2 separate regions of the Homo sapiens genome follow, and region 2 is linked to region 1. The links come from fine-mapping of genetic effects on gene expression. Tissue or cell type: whole blood. Region 1 holds a variant in brackets; the other region holds the start of a gene. All regions are shown on one strand. Distances are from middle to middle.

Region 1 (8,349 bases):
AGATGTAAAGTAGCCAGAGTCATATAGAAGTTAAATTGCAGAGTCAGGATTTGAACTCAGGCATTCTGGATCCAGAGCCTACATTCTTTACCAATATGCATTCTTTTCCCCATCATGTTGCAGAGGAAAATATAAATCTCAGGAATTATTTGTCCGAAGAATCTGACATAATCATTGTTAATTGACCTAAGACTATTTAAATAATGTAGAATTTATAAGAGAAATACCTTAACTACATACCATCAATTAATAATATAGCTTGGAGACTAACTGTATTTAACTATTTAAAAACGTAGTTAAAAATATTACCAAAGTAATAACACTGTTTTTTTTTGTTTCATCTTTTCAGTAATCTTGACACAGAAGAGCTATGTGGTAAGTGTTTCTTTAAGATCAGTCAAACCTATTACTTGCTTAAGAAGGAAAAAGAGTATTGTCTGATATATATCAACCTTGGAATTAATGTTGTATATTAGGAGTTCACAAAGGAAAAATTAATCGAGATCTCAAGGGATTTATCTTTACCCGTGAATTTTGCTCAAGTATGTATTTCACTCCAGAAAGAGTTGGGCCTCATTAGTTCGTTCATAGAAGAAGAATTGTTGTTACAATCAGTACATTAGTTTCGCAAGAGCAAATTCTCCACAAGTTTGAATATATTTTTAAATTGATGTTTAATACAACTTCATTATTCTCTGCATGATATATTGTGCAGAGCCTTTTGTTACTACCTTACAAAGCTCTCTTCTTGAAATGTAAAAATAACTTTGTCTCATACCTGCCTAAACCATTCTGGAGTTGTAAATGTCACTTGCAAAACAAGTGATTCAATGGGGACAGATACATCTTTACAAATGCCTGGTTTAATAGCCTCTTCATTTATTTTCTTCATCTTTATGGTTGGAACAATAGTTAAAGATTAGAAATATGGAAAGGTAAAATTTTAAAATTTTATTATTTTATGAAAAAATAGAACATTATGAGACTATTCCATTTGAAAGAGCTATCTTTCTCTGAATACTGGAAGGTTTAATGTTTTATGTTTTAAGATAAATGTTTAAGATAATACTTTTATTTAAGTTCGATCTTATTGTCTAGGCTGCTCAAAACATTTTTGGTAGTTAGAGTTGAGTTTTGTCTGAGAACTCCTCATTGAAACTATCAGCATTTCCTGAACATCTTCTAATTCTTACAGTTTCAGAATTTACCAAAACCATAAAAAAAGGCCATTTTCTTATATTCAAGAGTGGTTATTTTCCATTTCATCAAAGTGGTAGAGCAACACCAAAAGATGTTATACGAGAACAAAATATCAGAATACAGGGTTTCAAGGCAATAACTGAACAAAATGAGCATAATCTCCAACAACGACCTTTCAGATTTTCCAATGATTGTAAAAAAACTCATGCTTCTTATCCTAGCATAGTGTCCATCTCAGGTTCAGGGAGGAAAATCCAATTGAAATTCAAGATATGTTTATGGAGGAGCAAGGTACTCCGGTACCAAAGCAGGACATGCTTTTGTTAGTTATGAAATACCAACAGGGAAAATCATGCCATTCTTTCAGACACAGTCAGATAGTAGCATTGTGCACACATGGTTAAGTACCTGAAAGTGCCCATATGGACCATTGCCGTGAGGCTTTATGATGAATAGCAGTCACCATAAAGGCCAAGTTGTGGTCCACTCTCATCTATGTGCACACAGTCCTGGTCAGTGAAGTGAAAAGATAAAATGGAGAACACAAGATTATCTTGATAATTTCATTAAGGTAGCAGACCCATTTCCCTAAAATGTCTAGCTATGTCAGGCCAAAGTAATTATTTCCACAAATCATTCATTTATATCTATTTTTTGTTTTTCACTTAACTTTGCCTGGGTAGGCCACAGCTGATGACAAAGCAAACTGTTATAAGGGCTTTTAAGATAAAAACACTAAGTGGTTCTTCTTTATTTGCTATGTTGCCTGCCTATTGTCATTAAGGAATATTGTGTTATCCTCTGTTTTTCCTTGAAAGTACTTCAAGTTCTAAAGTATGATAGCATATCTCCACTTACTCCTCTACTGAAAAAAATATTTTAAAAATATGCCTTTTTTCTATAATGGAACTAGTTAGGTCCCTATCCTGTATTTATGGAAAAAGCTTTGGCTATGATTTTCCCCCTATAGCTTTAGTTAGGGAACTGGTATGTGGGGCTTTAATTCAACAGGAATTGTTCTGTGTTTTTTAAATCCAGTGATTGTATTCAGTCATGTGTTATAATCCTCCCCCTCTCTGTTCAAGAATATGCATTTTAATCTCCAGAGTGTCATTTCATTTCTCATTATTTTGTGAATATAAAGTAAATATTTAAGTTGGATTCTAATCAAAGCCAAATGCTTCAGTGTTAGCAAGTGAAATATGTCAATTCACACCCAGCACAAATTCCCCCTTGTGCGTGGGAGGGGCAGAACTTGATTGGCATGAAAAGTAGATTTCATATGTTCTTTCCTAGAAGCCAATTAGAAGTTGCAGGTATGTAAAACTTTAATTCTGAGGCTTTTACTTAATTTGTCAGTTACTAAGTTAAGGACCTAGAATTTAAAATATTTATTTTGAAAAAAATGTGTTTGTAATTTTAATTGTGAAAGTAATACATAACTACTATTTTTAAAATTTAACAGAATTATGTAGGCGTATAAGCTAACATGTCAATCTTCTGTGCCACTCATTGTCGTCCCCAATACTGAGCTCTACTATTTACTTGGAACATATTCTTCCAGACATTATTATGTGTATATTGACATTGATATATATGTGTACGTGTTGTTGTTTTTTCCAACAGTGAGATTATACTATATGATTAGTGCAGTTGCATCCCCTTTTCCTTCATTTTATTTAAAGGCTGCATAGTGTCTCATGAACCTTAATTTTTTTCAATCAAGTTCCTTTTAATGGATTTTCAATTTGAATCCAACCTTCCATGGGAAAAACAGGATTGAAATAAATATTCTCATATACATTATTCTCACACTCACGTTCAAGTAATTCTGAATTCTGAATGGTAGATTCCCAAACATGTAATTCCTCAATCAAGGCTTCTCTAAGGTGCACACCCACCAGCAGTTTATAGAAGTGCCAAAATTATCCACTCTTCACATACAATTGTGAAGGCCTTCCTAAATGCATTTTTTTTTTGCCGTATCTTATCACGATCAGTCAATACATAACTCAGTTTTAATTAGGCAATTGTGTTTGAACTCTGGCATTAAAGCTTTGATTTTGTATTTCTACCATAATTAGCTATAATCTAAAGCTTCAGGAGTATAATTACTACCTTTCCTGGCCCTACCCTGTTTATGACTGTTTTCATAACCTTACTCATTTTTACTGAACCGTTTTGCAGATCTTGAAGTTGGTAGTTAAGAATAGATAGTTGAGGCCGGGCGCGGTGGCTCACGCCTGTAATCCCAGCACTTTGGGAGGCCGAGGCGGGTGGATCATGAGGTCAGGAGATCGAGACCATCCTGGCTAACAAGGTGAAACCCCGTCTCTACTAAAAATACAAAAAATTAGCCGGGCGCGGTGGCGGGCGCCTGTAGTCCCAGCTACTCGGGAGGCTGAGACAGGAGAATGGTGTGAACCCGGGAAGCGGAGCTTGCAGTGAGCCGAGATTGCGCCACTGCAGTCCGCAGTCCGGCCTGGGCGACAGAGCGAGACTCCGTCTCAAAAAAAAAAAAAAAAAAAAAAAAAAAAGAATAGGTAGTTGAAATATTTACAGATGAGCGAAGAATAATTGCAATGAATGTGCTTGATCTGAAAGCCTTTCTGTAAGAAAGCTTTGTGAGGAAGGTTGAATATATTTAATAGTGTAATTTCTCATCTAGTCGGGTGTTATCTACAAAATATTAAACTATTTTAAAAGTTATATGAAGTCTATAAATAAGATGGATAAAAACTGAGGGTACGGGGGCCGGGCGCGGTGGCTCACGCCTGTAATCCCAGCACTTTGGGAGGCTGAGGCGGGTGGATCACGAGATCAGGAGATCAAGACCACGGTGAAACCCCATCTCTACTAAAAATACAAAAAAAAAAAAAAAAATTACCGGGCGTGGTGGCAGGCGCCTGTAGTCCCAGCTACTCTGGAGGCTGAGGCAGGAGAATG[G/A]CGTGAACCCGGGAGGCGGAGCTTGCAGTGAGCTGAGATCAGGCCACTGCACTCCAGCCTGGGCGACAGAGCAAGACTCTGTCTCAAAAAATAATAATAATAAATAAAGTAAAGTAAAATAAAATAACTGAGCGTACGGGAAACTCCAGAATAAAAGCTTATTCCCTTCATACCCAAGGTTCCTTTCGGTAGCTGTGCACTAAGCACCCAGGCTGCAGAGATTGGCAGAGCCTGGACAGTGCTCAGAGACCTGTGCCAGCAAGTCTGAGTGCTAGGAAATCAGAAGGCTCTATGCCCTCCTCCAGACTGCTGTGTCCTCCTCCAGTGGCACATGTCACTGATGATTGAGATGTAAGAGAGTTTGCGTGTCGCTTATCTGCATCCCCTCAAAATAGCCCACATTTCTAGATCTGACTGACCTCCCTATTCAGAACATGCGGGTTTTAACACTCTCTCTCATCTCAATTACTTTCTTTTCTACCTAGTCTACTACTTGAGAAAGTCTAACTGCTTGAGAAGTTTAGATGAGAGTCATCTAAACTCATGAGAATACTTTGTAAGACCAGTTTCCACTGAGACTTTTGTGGCAGCTGTGGGTCCTTTGCTTCTGACAGAATTATTAAGCTGACCTGAAAACTCAACAACTTGAAAGACTAAGGTGCAGGATAGAAAAACAGAACAAAACTGTAGTTTGGTAATGCAACACCACTGATTAAGTACAGAAAGGCAGGTAGAAACTAATTTTTTGTTAGCATTTTAGTAGAGAAGATGGCACACTGGATATCCATGAGAATATAGCCTGCTTCCTGACAGATAACAGGCTTACTACATCTGCTTATAAACTGTGCTCTACTTTTTCATCATACCTAATATTCAGACTCTACTTTTCAATGATACTTCATTTAAACTGATGAGAATTGGTTTTCACACATTTCCATAAGTGCAATATGACTCTGTTTTGCTCAAGTTCATGAAACCCACATACAGGTTTCAACAAAATAGGTCTTTTCTTCAGGAAGTTCTTCTAGTTACCAAAGGAAAGCATTTTAAGGAATCAATATTTGTTCCAAGTCATTCTTTCTAATGCCATGACTTAAGGACAATATACATTTGCCCTACTCACACTGGTATTGTGATTCAAATGAGAAACATCAGTCACAAACATGAGAAACTTGGAATAAAACTTTAGTCCAAGCTCAGCCACTTCCAAATATGTCACTGTCCTTCCCTCCTGCCTACCACATCTTGGAGTTTGCAGATCTGCTGAAATTCTGGACTCCACCGCTCATTCCACTTCAAAGCTTTGGCATGGCTCATAGTCCTAGTTGTGTGATGAAATCCCTCCTGGCAGTTGATACCTCCCTTCTCTCTTGATGGTGTCACCAACATTCCCAAATCATCCTTAGTGCATCCCTTCCTTTTCTGATAGGAGAATTTGAGGATGTCACTCTCCTTTCCATGGCTTCCCATTGCCCATAGTGGTCTCGAATTTACTCTGCATCATAATCTCCTAGGGAACCTCGCCCTCAACCCAAAGATTGTGATTTACTAGATGAGACCTTCTCAGTTATCTTCATGTCTAACAAGTACCCTAGAGTAGTGTTTCTCAAACTTAAATAAGCCTACAAATCACCTGGGGGTCTTATTAAAATGCAGAATGTGATTCAACAGGACTGGAAGTGGGCCTGAGACACTGAGTTCTAACAAGCTCCTAGGTGAAACTAATGCTGCTGGTCCACAAAACAAACTTTGGACAGTGAAGTACTAGAGGATTCTGATGCAGGTGGTCAAAAACACTTACCTAGACTTGAGGATCAAAGAGCATCTGGCAAGGACTGTTTCCAACACATACAGCTTTATCTCCCAACACTGACTTTTAGGATTTGTTTCCTTGCTGCCTCCCATTCTCAAATATGTTCCAGCCCTGTTCTTTATGTCTTGGCAGTGCTGAACTACACATACTCCTGCAAACATGACAGGAAAACAGCTGCTTCCATGCCCTTCCTCTGAGTATCCAGCAGGTTAAGTCCTATTCATCTGTTAACTGAGCCATTGCTGGTGTTTCTCCTATGAAGCCCTCTCTGACTCACCCAGGCAGACTTGGGCATTCTTTTTCTTTTTTTTTTTTCAAAGACAGGATCTCGTTCTGTCACCCAGGCTGGAGTGCAGTGGCACAATTTCGGCTCACTGCAACCTTGGTATCCCTGGTTCAAGCAATTCTCCTGCCTTATCCTCTATTTGGATTGCACCTTGTATCTGGGCCCTTCAACCATTGTCTTTAACAATGATTATGTGTATTGCAGTTGTTACTTGGAATGTTTCTCTCTCCTCTCTGACTTTAGGGCTTCTGTCTTTTCACCTTTGTATTCCAAGCTCCTATGATAGCACCTGGCACATAAAAGGCCCTAAGTAAAGGTTTGTTAGGCCACAGAATGAGTAAGTGAACACTCGCTATGATGAAGTGGAGGGGAGTTATCTCTCTTTATCTATGTTGGATGTGTCTGGCTCTTTCATCTAACTTCCCTCTTTGAGTTTATTGGAGCCCCCTTGCCTTGACTGCCTGACCCATATCCCTCAGTGAGTAAGTTATAAAAGAGCCTTAGTGACACTGAGCTGCACCACCTCAAAATAATCCTTACACTTAGATTTCCAACTTAAGCTCCTATCCATGACTTAAGTATTGTAATTCTCTTCCTTCTCAGTCATTTTCTTTACTATCTAGTGATTGTTCTTTTTTTCTAACTTGGAGAGTTGAGATGAATAAATGGATGAATGAAGGACAGAAAGAATGAAGTCTAGATAGGTGTCAGCTCTGAAGCTTCTAGTCATTGTTTTTCTTATATGCTTTATCAGCATATGCCTGCATCTGTGTGCATAGGTCCAATTTTAAAGTGGAAAGACAACTTAAATTCTCTCCAGGAACCTTTACTAATTAAGCCAAATGTCCATGAATGAAATATTTATTTTAAAAAGAGGCTTTACCTCTCTCTCTCTATATATATATATAGTAAGTATTTTCTTATTTATCTTCTAACTAATCACTGTCTCTCTCTCTCTCTACATATATTATATATAGATATCTATATTATATATAATATATATTATATTTATTATTTATTATTTATATAATATATATCTTATATATAATATATATTATATATATTATATATATAATATAGGTATCTATATATAGATATCTATATATAATATATATATATCGAGAGAGAGAGTGTTGCTTTTTTAGCAACAATTTTTTTGTTTTCACTTTCTTTTTTTTTTTTTTTAGACAATGTCTCATCTGTAGCCCAGGCTGGAGTGCAGTGGCACTATCACGGCTCACTGCAGCCTCGACTTCCCAGGCTCAAGCAATCCTCCCACCTCAGCCTCCCAAGTAGCTGGGATCAGAGGCACATACCACCATGCTGTGTGGCCCAGGCTGGTCACGAATTCCTGGGCTCAAGTGATCCTTCTGCCTTAGCTTCCCAAAATACTGAGATTATACGCACGAGCCTCCATGCCCAACCTGTTTTCACTTTATATTTTTGTCTATTTGCATTTAAAACCCCTGTCACAATCCTCTTTGAGGCATTATATATACAAGTTTTAAAATAAAAATGAAGTAACAGCTTCACTTTTTGGCATTTTTCTTATGCTTTTTGCTTGTTTCAACATAGTATAGACTCAGTTCTGATATTCATTATTTTTCCAACTTACGAATATTCTACGGCCACATTAACTGCTCGCTGGTTGATGAAGAGTGTTCATTTGTTATAAATAATTGCACAAATAAAGTTAGACATATTTGTCAACCTTATCAAAAAGTCAACATTATAACCACAAATTAAAATGTTATTTTGAAGCAGGTATTTAAGGAGTAAATATTTTATTTATCTTCCAACTAATCACTTTCTAAAGAATCTTTATAAGAGATAGTTTACACCACATTGTTTTTAAGGAATGCATTTTACTTTTTGTCAAAAATATGTTATTTGTTTTTAACCTAAGTGTATACAGACTGTATTTTGACAACCATGATCTGGAATTGATTTAGTGTCCACCTGTGTTTATTTTCTTCTCAAAAGAAGTCTGTACACTAACTAATATATCAGTCAATGGCAATTTCCAGTTGTTATTAATATCAATATAAACAAATATTTCCTAGAGTATTAAATAAATTAATCAAGGCGGTTTCCATCAAACATG
Region 2 (8,349 bases), 110 kb after region 1:
CATCACCAACTCCCTTGGACCACACTTGGTAAAACTGCCTTCAATTTGATGGGCTAAATTAGAGCCTCTGATTCCAAAATCAGTCTTTAATTTCTGTTCACGCTACTTCCAAAATATTAATGTTATTTTGTTTCACCATATATTTGGACATTCAAGTGTTTTGTCTATAGTTCCCTTACTATCTCTGCTGCTCTTCTTCCAAACAGCTATTTATCTGTCAAGACCAAGATCAAGCTCTTGCCACTTCCTTGGAAAATATCCCCCTGTCTCAACAGGTAAGGTTAAATAAAATAGTCTACATGAAGTTCTCTAATAATAAAATAATAATAACAATAATAATAATTCCTCCTTCCTTACATTCCTCCTTCACTGGTCCCTACTGTATTTTATCACTTTTTCTAAAATATATCACAGTAAATATATTACATGTCTACTTATTGGACTATCAGTTAGTTGAGGCCACAAAAACCAGACCTTATTTATTTTTGTATTCTAGTATCTGCAACATAGATTTATTAAATAAACTCTATAAACGCTAAGTACCTCGTCATTGCAACTAAAATCTGACACCTGTATGGGACACAAGATTTCCAAATTTTGATGCCCATCAAGACAAAGTCAAAAATAAAACTCCACTTGATTTTGCACCTGCTTATCCAGAAATAATTGTAACCATATGATATTAAGCAAATCATAAGTCTAAGTGCCTATTTCACCAAGTATAAGATAGAGTTAGTAACCCTTTAAGTTCCCAGAAATGCTTTATCCTATTTTTTAAATATCTTTGGACATGTATAATTCAAATGTTAAAATTATAAACTTATAAACAACCTCTCAAAATTAGGAATGATAAGTAAGCACCCAAAAGTTACTATTTGGAGATAACCCAGCAAGTACTTCAAGTTAATACCAACCCAGCTTTGTAATGTGTCTGTTAGCTAGTATTTCAACGTGGCAAAACTAATGCTCTCTGTACTTTTTGTGCAATACAATTGGATATAACAAGATGAAAAAAAAGTTATAAGCACAAATAGAAAAAATACTTCAAATAAAGTTATTAATATTTTCTATGTAGAAGAGTATATTTAAAATAAGGACCAAAAAGCAACCTAATATACATTGCTTTATTTGATGTTTATCCTAGCTATTTTAGTTAAGACCCTAATACTAGTATGTAGTAACTTTCCATCCTGTTCCCCATATGAAACTAGTGAATCAGAATACAATAGGATAGAGTACTTTGGCACACACTTCGTTGTTTTTCATTGCTCAGCTGAAATTTAGTTGTAGGTTGTTAAGTCTTTTCCAATCGCTGAGCAAGGCAAATCCACAGTATTCAAACTAGGGATTTTCAAGAGTTGGGGATTACAGAACTCCATTATATGACTTTGCAACACAAGTAAATAAACAAAAAATCAAAGCTCTTTTGGTGCCACCTACCCTTCAATTTACAGTAGGAAAGATACAGCAATGGCTCCCTGTATATAAATCCACATCAGTTAAGGAAATTAGAAAAGATGGTGTCATTCAGTACTCTGTTTAATATTTTTTTTTAAAGTAAACGATGCCTGCAGGGAAACACTGACATTATAGGGGACAAGTTTGGGATTACAATGCATAGTACATTCCACCATCATGTTATTAATGAAAAAGGTTAAGTATTTATAAAAAGTAATTATTATTGTAAAACTGAGTCACGAGATTATAATTAAGGCAGAACTCCATAAACCAAAACCTAATTCTCAGTTTAGTTAAAAATAATAAAGACTTAACTGCACTACAAAGTCATTATACAAAACAAATTCAGTCTTAAACTCTAATGCCTGCTTCATCCATGGAATGTAGAGATCAAAAAGTTTCCCTTGAAGCTACTGGTGCTACCTAGAGTAGCCATGTATCATATCAACGATTCAAAGCACAGTTACAAAATAAACAGAATTCTGCCTACAACATTGGGTAGCAAGTAGTGGGCCTATCATAAGGTTGTAAAATGTAAATTTAAAAATGTAAATGTATAGTTTTGTGGTATAAATGTTTTTTAAAGGATATTTTGATCCAATGTCTCCAAAAAAACTTTCTATTAATACATACTGAGAAATGGTTGCTGAATAGTTTTTTTCAAGATCACACACACTTAACAAATCATCTTTAAAGACCAAGTTGTATGAATAGAATATTGGTAAATCAGTTAGTTATTTACAGTTGCTATTCTACACCTGGCAATACTAACTATATCTTAGGTTCCTTTTCTTTTTAAAAAATTTACCTAAGTATGAATCTTCAGGCCTTATCAGTCCTGATATTACCAGTAAACCTAGAATTGTCTAAAATACAATGGGATAATAAGCAGATACATTGACCACTTTGGCCAAAATCTTATTAATCTTATTTTTTAATTAAGATGCCTTTTTAAGGTCCTACTACATACTAAATATAATTTCATTTAATTTTGAGCCATATATGAACGGTGGAAGAAAATTATTATTAGTCCCACTTCACAGATAAGAAACCTGAGGCTCAGAAAAATAAGAGACATGCCCAAGTCCACATAGCTACTAAGTGCTAGATATTAGGATTTGACTACAAAGTTCACACCTTTATATCAAAACTTGCCTATTTGTTACATAAAAGAAAGATATCTGACTGTCCATTTATTACATGTGGACACTGCGTGTATAGATTTAAAAATTAATGTGAAAAGTAACATTTATTTATAAGGCCATGCAGAATAAATTGGTATATGCTAATAATATCCATTTCTTCAATTTACCATTTTTCTTAGAATACTAAATAAATTAGGGAGTACTGTGCTTTCCTCACGCTACAGACATGGTATACTGCCATACTAACCATAGATCACAGCATATGAAATATACTATGCACTGTTTTTAGAAGCTGAGTACTATACTTAAACTCCAATATAAATTCTAGTCTTCTTTGGAAAGTACTGATGCTACCGCTGCCGTTGAGAAATAAGATCATATAAAGTGAAATAATGAAATGAAAAGACCATATTTGAATTTACCTTGTGTATAATTCCCATATGATAACCAGATAAAATTTCATCTCAATTTCCAACTTCAAAACATTACAAAGTTAGGATTCCTTGAAACCCAATACTGCTTGTAAGTAAACTGCTCACACTGACAAAATGATAGATGAAGAGAAACATACAGGAAACATCGGGGAGTAAGAAATAAACCACCTATGACTCAAGTGGTGAAAGACATTTCACGTTCCATATATCTGGTTGCACTATTAAGGAAAAATTAAAACGAAAATATCAAAAAACTAGAAGCTTGGAGAGTTCCAACATATCTTCCATTTCATGCCTTCTCTTTATAACTAATTTAATTTTTTTTTTGGTCTATTTGAGGGATTTCTCAAAACAAAACACAATTTAACATTCGGATGGGCTAAAGCTGTCCAGGTAATAGGTGTCTGTGATTACTTTAGTCATGTAACTGTCCTTTCCGTAGCTTTGACTAAAACACCAGCAATGAAAACCTTGTGCCACCGGGTGGAGGGGGCAAATCGTCTTGAAAGCCTCCCACCGCCTGGCACCAGGTGCTGGGGCAGAGCCAAGGGGAGCTGTGTACTTAGCTCCTTTTTTGGCGATGGCTTTGGTCTCGGCCACTTGCCCCTCCGTCGGGCTCCCCTGGCCCCCTACACTTTCTTTCCCCTCATCCGACGCTCTCGCTCCCATCCCACTCCCATTCAGGGTCCACAGGGTACTGAAGGGGCCCTGAGAGATTTCCCGACCCACCTCAGAGCTTCTCTTCCTCGCCTCAACTTTCCCGGGGTCGGGCCTGGGAGACGGCGCCCACCCGCCTCCTCCACACCACGGGGCCCGACTTCCGTCCCCCAGTGTCGCTCATCCTCCCTAGCCACTTACCGACTCAAAATCCACGGGGATTTCGGGGCAGCAGCGTCGCCGCGCTCAGCCCACACGCGGAGGCCGAGCGCCCTGCTGCCCGTCGGGGAACGGCTCCTGCCGCTGGTCCGCTGGCTGACCGCGGTGGCGGCGGCGGGGGGCGAGGGGCGGGGGGCGAGGGGCGGGGGGCGGGGCGGGAGGCGGCTCCGAGGGGCACGAGGCGGGCCCAGGGCGGGCGCGGGGCGTGGCCTCGGGCGCTGAGCCTCGAGAGCAGCCGCACCCCTGCCGGGGTAGAACCGTTAAAAGGGTGGCGCGCGCTTTCCCGGGCGAGCTGGGCGCGTGGGGTTGGAGCGGCGCCACCCAGAGCCGGTCGTCTAGGGTAGGAGGCCGCGAGTGAGGCGCTGACAGGCTAGCCCTCGACGGGGCGCGCCCGCGTGAACGGCCTTGGGGGCCCCAGACCGTGGCCCTGCTTGTGCGAAGACTGGGAGGCGCCAGGCGGGCCGCCTGCTGGGGGCTTGGCGGCGGGTTCCAGGCAGCGTCTGTGAGGGAGGCCGCCTCTGTGAGGGAGGCCGCCGTCGTGCTGACGACTGAGTCCACCCTACTCCTGTCCCCCGTCAGAGCTGCTGGCAGGCGCTGCTTTCCCCTTGGTGCATTTAGTGGGTGTCGGGATTCGGGTTGGCAGGGAGGAAGATGTTTGAGACCTGGTTTACCTCAGACCAGGGATACAGCGTTTCACACAGACTGCCATCCTGAAAGGAACAAAATGAATTAAGGCAACTCCATCCGAATCATTTCTTTTTAATCTTCACCTTCAATCCTTTTGCTAATTTTTCATTATCTTTGAGTGTCCCCAGAGGGGGACTGTCTGCTTGTACTGAGGGACGTGGAGGTGGCAGTCCCTCACGTCCCCAAGCACCAAAAGGACAGTTGAAAATGCACTGGCAAACACTGAACGGTTTTAAGTGGGGCACTATCAGGATTTACCATTTTGGAAGGTATGAAGTTTCACAAGCACTTCCATGTATAGTCAAGTTATTGGAGCTGTCTCCGTTTAGAAATGGCTTCCAGAAACACTCCTACTATCCACTGAGACAACTCGCCTGGCATCAGAGACCTAGGGTCCAGGGTCAGAGATGGGTCATGATAAAAGGGCATCCCTTGGGGTGAGGCACCAGAAGTCTGCACAGTGGAATCAATATATTCCAACCACCAGATGTAGAAAATCTTAAGTGCAGGATGTGGTTCTCATCCATCTAGTCACAACAGAAGTTTTCTTCTTCAGGAATATACTTAACAATGAAGCATGTATAATTTTATATACATCTTACAATAAAATTATTTTGTGCATATCACTGTATGAAGTCAGTAGAAACTATTGTGACAAAAATGTAAATTGGAAGAATTCCAATTCAGATCAGTATTAGTAATTTATTGAGAGGAAGAGAGAAATTAGACTAGACAGACTCCTTGATTTTTTGATAATTGAGGAAGAAAAATGAACCATATAAACATATCGAAACTTTTCAAAATCTTATTGATAATGACATAAAATTTTGGCATCTACAAGGATAATCTAGAATTCATACCTTTACAACAAGAACTTGACAACAAACAGGTTAATGACTTTTAGCAACTTAAAGGTTAGTCACTGCCTGAGAAAACTTGAAGTGCCCTGAAATCACAGAGTTCACCTAAGAACCTTAAGATGAGTTTCCCCAAATTTAGCAATACTAAAAATTGGCATTATTACCAATAACAAATTGTGAAACTGCAATAACTTTTTTAAGCTTTCAATAACAAAAAATACATGTTGACTAACTTTGCTTTGAAAAGACTACCACATTATTCATTATCACCAGGGAAAGTGCATTACAAAATTACTGTCAAATGATGAGGCAATAAAAAAATGAAAACTAAAAATATAGGAAAAACATAGCAATGGTTCAGGTAGTTAATTTAAAATATCATTTTACTGAATTTCTAAAATATTTGTGGTATTTATCATCTTTTTAAAAATCTGTAATTTGTTGTCACTGATTTTCTTATTCTAAGTAAATATTTACTTTGGTCACCGCCCCCCATCCCTGCTTCCTGCCCTGCTCTGGCCACTCAAAGAATTGGAGAATGGATTGAGAAAAAGCAACAGTGGAAATAGATATCCCAGTTAGAAGGATAATAATTTATAATGTGTCTTACTACTTATAAGTAGAGGTTTTATTTAAACTTATATTTTCATATTTTATTTAACTCCACTTTCACAGTACCTAGAACTACACACACACACATACAAACTGGTTACTTGATCTCATGGTATGTGCTGTTTAGTGAGGGTGCAGATATGCAAACAGACAATTTCAACTCAGTAAATTAATTGTTAAATCTGGGTGGTGCCACTGAAAGCCTGGCAACTCAGAAAGCTGAAGAGGTAGCATTATCTCATGTTTACCAAATGATTTCCTTGCCAACCTCCTGCCAATAGTCGCCTTTTATTCATTTATTCCTCAAACATTTACGAAGCATTTTATGAAGGATACACTAACAAACACACAACACAGATGCTCATAATTATTATAGGAATGTGTTAAAACAGTGGTCCCCAACATTGTTAGCACCAGGGGCTGGTTTCGTGGATGACTGGAAGGGCGGGGTATGGTTTTGGGATGAAACTGTTTCACCTCAGATCATCAGGCATTAGATTCTTATAAGGAGCACACGACCTAGATCCCTCGCATGTGCAGTTTACAATAGGGTTCACACTCCTATGGGCCACTGTTGATCTGACAGGCAGCAGAGCTCAGGCAGTAATGCCAGCAATGGGGAGGGGCTGTAAATGCAGATGAAGCTTCAGTCACTCACCTGCCACTCACCTCCTGCTGTGTGGCTTGTTTCCTAACAGGCCAATGACCAGTACCAGTCTGGGGTCTGGGGGAGGGCAGTGGTTAGAAACCCCTGTGTTAAAAGCTATAATAATGACTTAGTTTCATTCAGCTCAGTTCAGCTCAGCAAAGGTTTTGAAGACCTATGTTTATGTGCTAGAAACTGAGGATACAAAGACAAACTGAAATACGACGAGAAAGGCTGATACACACTGAGGTTACAAAGAAAAACTGAAATATGATGAGAAAGGCTGATGCAAAATTAGCAAGAAGAGAACGCTAGCTTAATAATAGTGCCTATATATGAAATAGAAGATAGTATATGTAGTAGAAATGTTTACGTGGAATAAAAGAAGGACTACATGGAAAGGCATACTTCTGTTGAACGGTAGGAGGATGGAGAAGAGACATCACGAAAGGGTTCACAGGGGAGGTAATGCCTGAGCAGGATTTTTAAGGATAAAACATTTACCCACTTAGAAAAGGGTATTCCTTGCAGGTGAAAGAACAAGCCCAGAGATATACAGGAATAGAGCAGCAGCCAATAAAATAAAACATCAGTAATTCAGTACTGCAGAAACACAAAATACAAGAGACTGCCTGGTAGTGGCTTGATATTAGGCTAATAAAAGATGAAGTGTCTTTTATCTCCTTTATAAGGATATGGAGAGACACTGAAGGATTTTAGTTTGGGTTTAATAGTATTCTATGACCATTTGGGAAAAAATTACTTAAATGACAACATGAAAAATGGATTGGGAAGCAGAGTAGGCATCAGGCAAGACAAGAAGAGAGGCAGAGGAATCGGTTCAGAGGTTTACAGTAATCCAGGCAATGTTTATTGAGAGCCATAAGTAAAGGTAGATAGTGACCATAAGGAAAGAAAAGTACACATAGCTGAGAGAATAAGGAAAACTGCTAACAGTGTAGAGTGTGAGAGTGGAAAGTGGAAAATAGTGATGCCAGTTATTGACTTGCGCACCCAGAGCGATACAGGAAAAAAATAAAAAGATACTGTGATTTGCCTGAGGAGGCACAAGAGAATGGGATCTAGATTGTAGGTGAAGGGAAGGGACAAAAGCAAGAATAGGTGAAGTAGAGATTATCCAGTATAAGTGGAAGGGGTCTACTGTGGAAAGCAGTAGGACTTTCAAATTTTGAGATAGCATTTCTGGGGAATGTTCACCTGAAAACAGGTGAACACTGTTGAGGAGTCAGCTGAAGGTGAAGATCAGAAATTTATAAAGGCATTTACCTGCGTGGTTGTGAGATTCATTGGCAAATAAAGGAAGGGATGATAAATTGAAAGAATAATAAACCTGAAGTCCTCACAGTGTGAGACTTCCGGACAGAAGAGGTATATTTTCAAAGAGGTGTATTTTCAGACAGTGGGATAACTGAGTGTGAGAGTTGAGATGGAGTGGTTCTGAGTATAACCACCCAGCATGCCGCTGTAGAGGTGAATACCAGAAGTGAAAGGAAAATAAAGGTCATTAGACTTGACGAAGAACTGTGAGTCCAGACTGCAGTATTAGATAAGCCATTCACATTGACATTTAAATCAGTGGCATGTGATAAGAATAAAAACCAGGTACTGAA

The links. PIP is the estimated chance that this variant, and not a neighbour inherited with it, causes the effect.
Region 2: C8orf88 starts here. The variant in region 1 is fine-mapped to the expression of C8orf88 in whole blood (TOPMed, PIP above 0.99). The same link has a PIP of 0.9 or more in blood mononuclear cells.

What each region holds. Positions count from the first base shown.
Region 1 is chr8:90,871,779-90,880,127 of GRCh38, forward strand. NECAB1 (N-terminal EF-hand calcium binding protein 1) reads left to right here. Exons shown (of 13, transcript NM_022351.5): 4 at 350-375. The region is part of intron 2 of LOC105375634 (a long non-coding RNA gene); the gene reads right to left. Among named protein-coding and RNA genes, the nearest start is that of NECAB1, 84 kb to the left of the region's middle. The variant G/A (reference allele first, on the strand shown) is at 4,147.
Region 2 is chr8:90,981,219-90,989,567 of GRCh38, forward strand. It overlaps C8orf88 (chromosome 8 open reading frame 88), which reads right to left and starts at 4,020. Exons shown (of 6, transcript NM_001190972.2): 1 at 3,896-4,020. RefSeq lists a silencer at 4,044-4,203.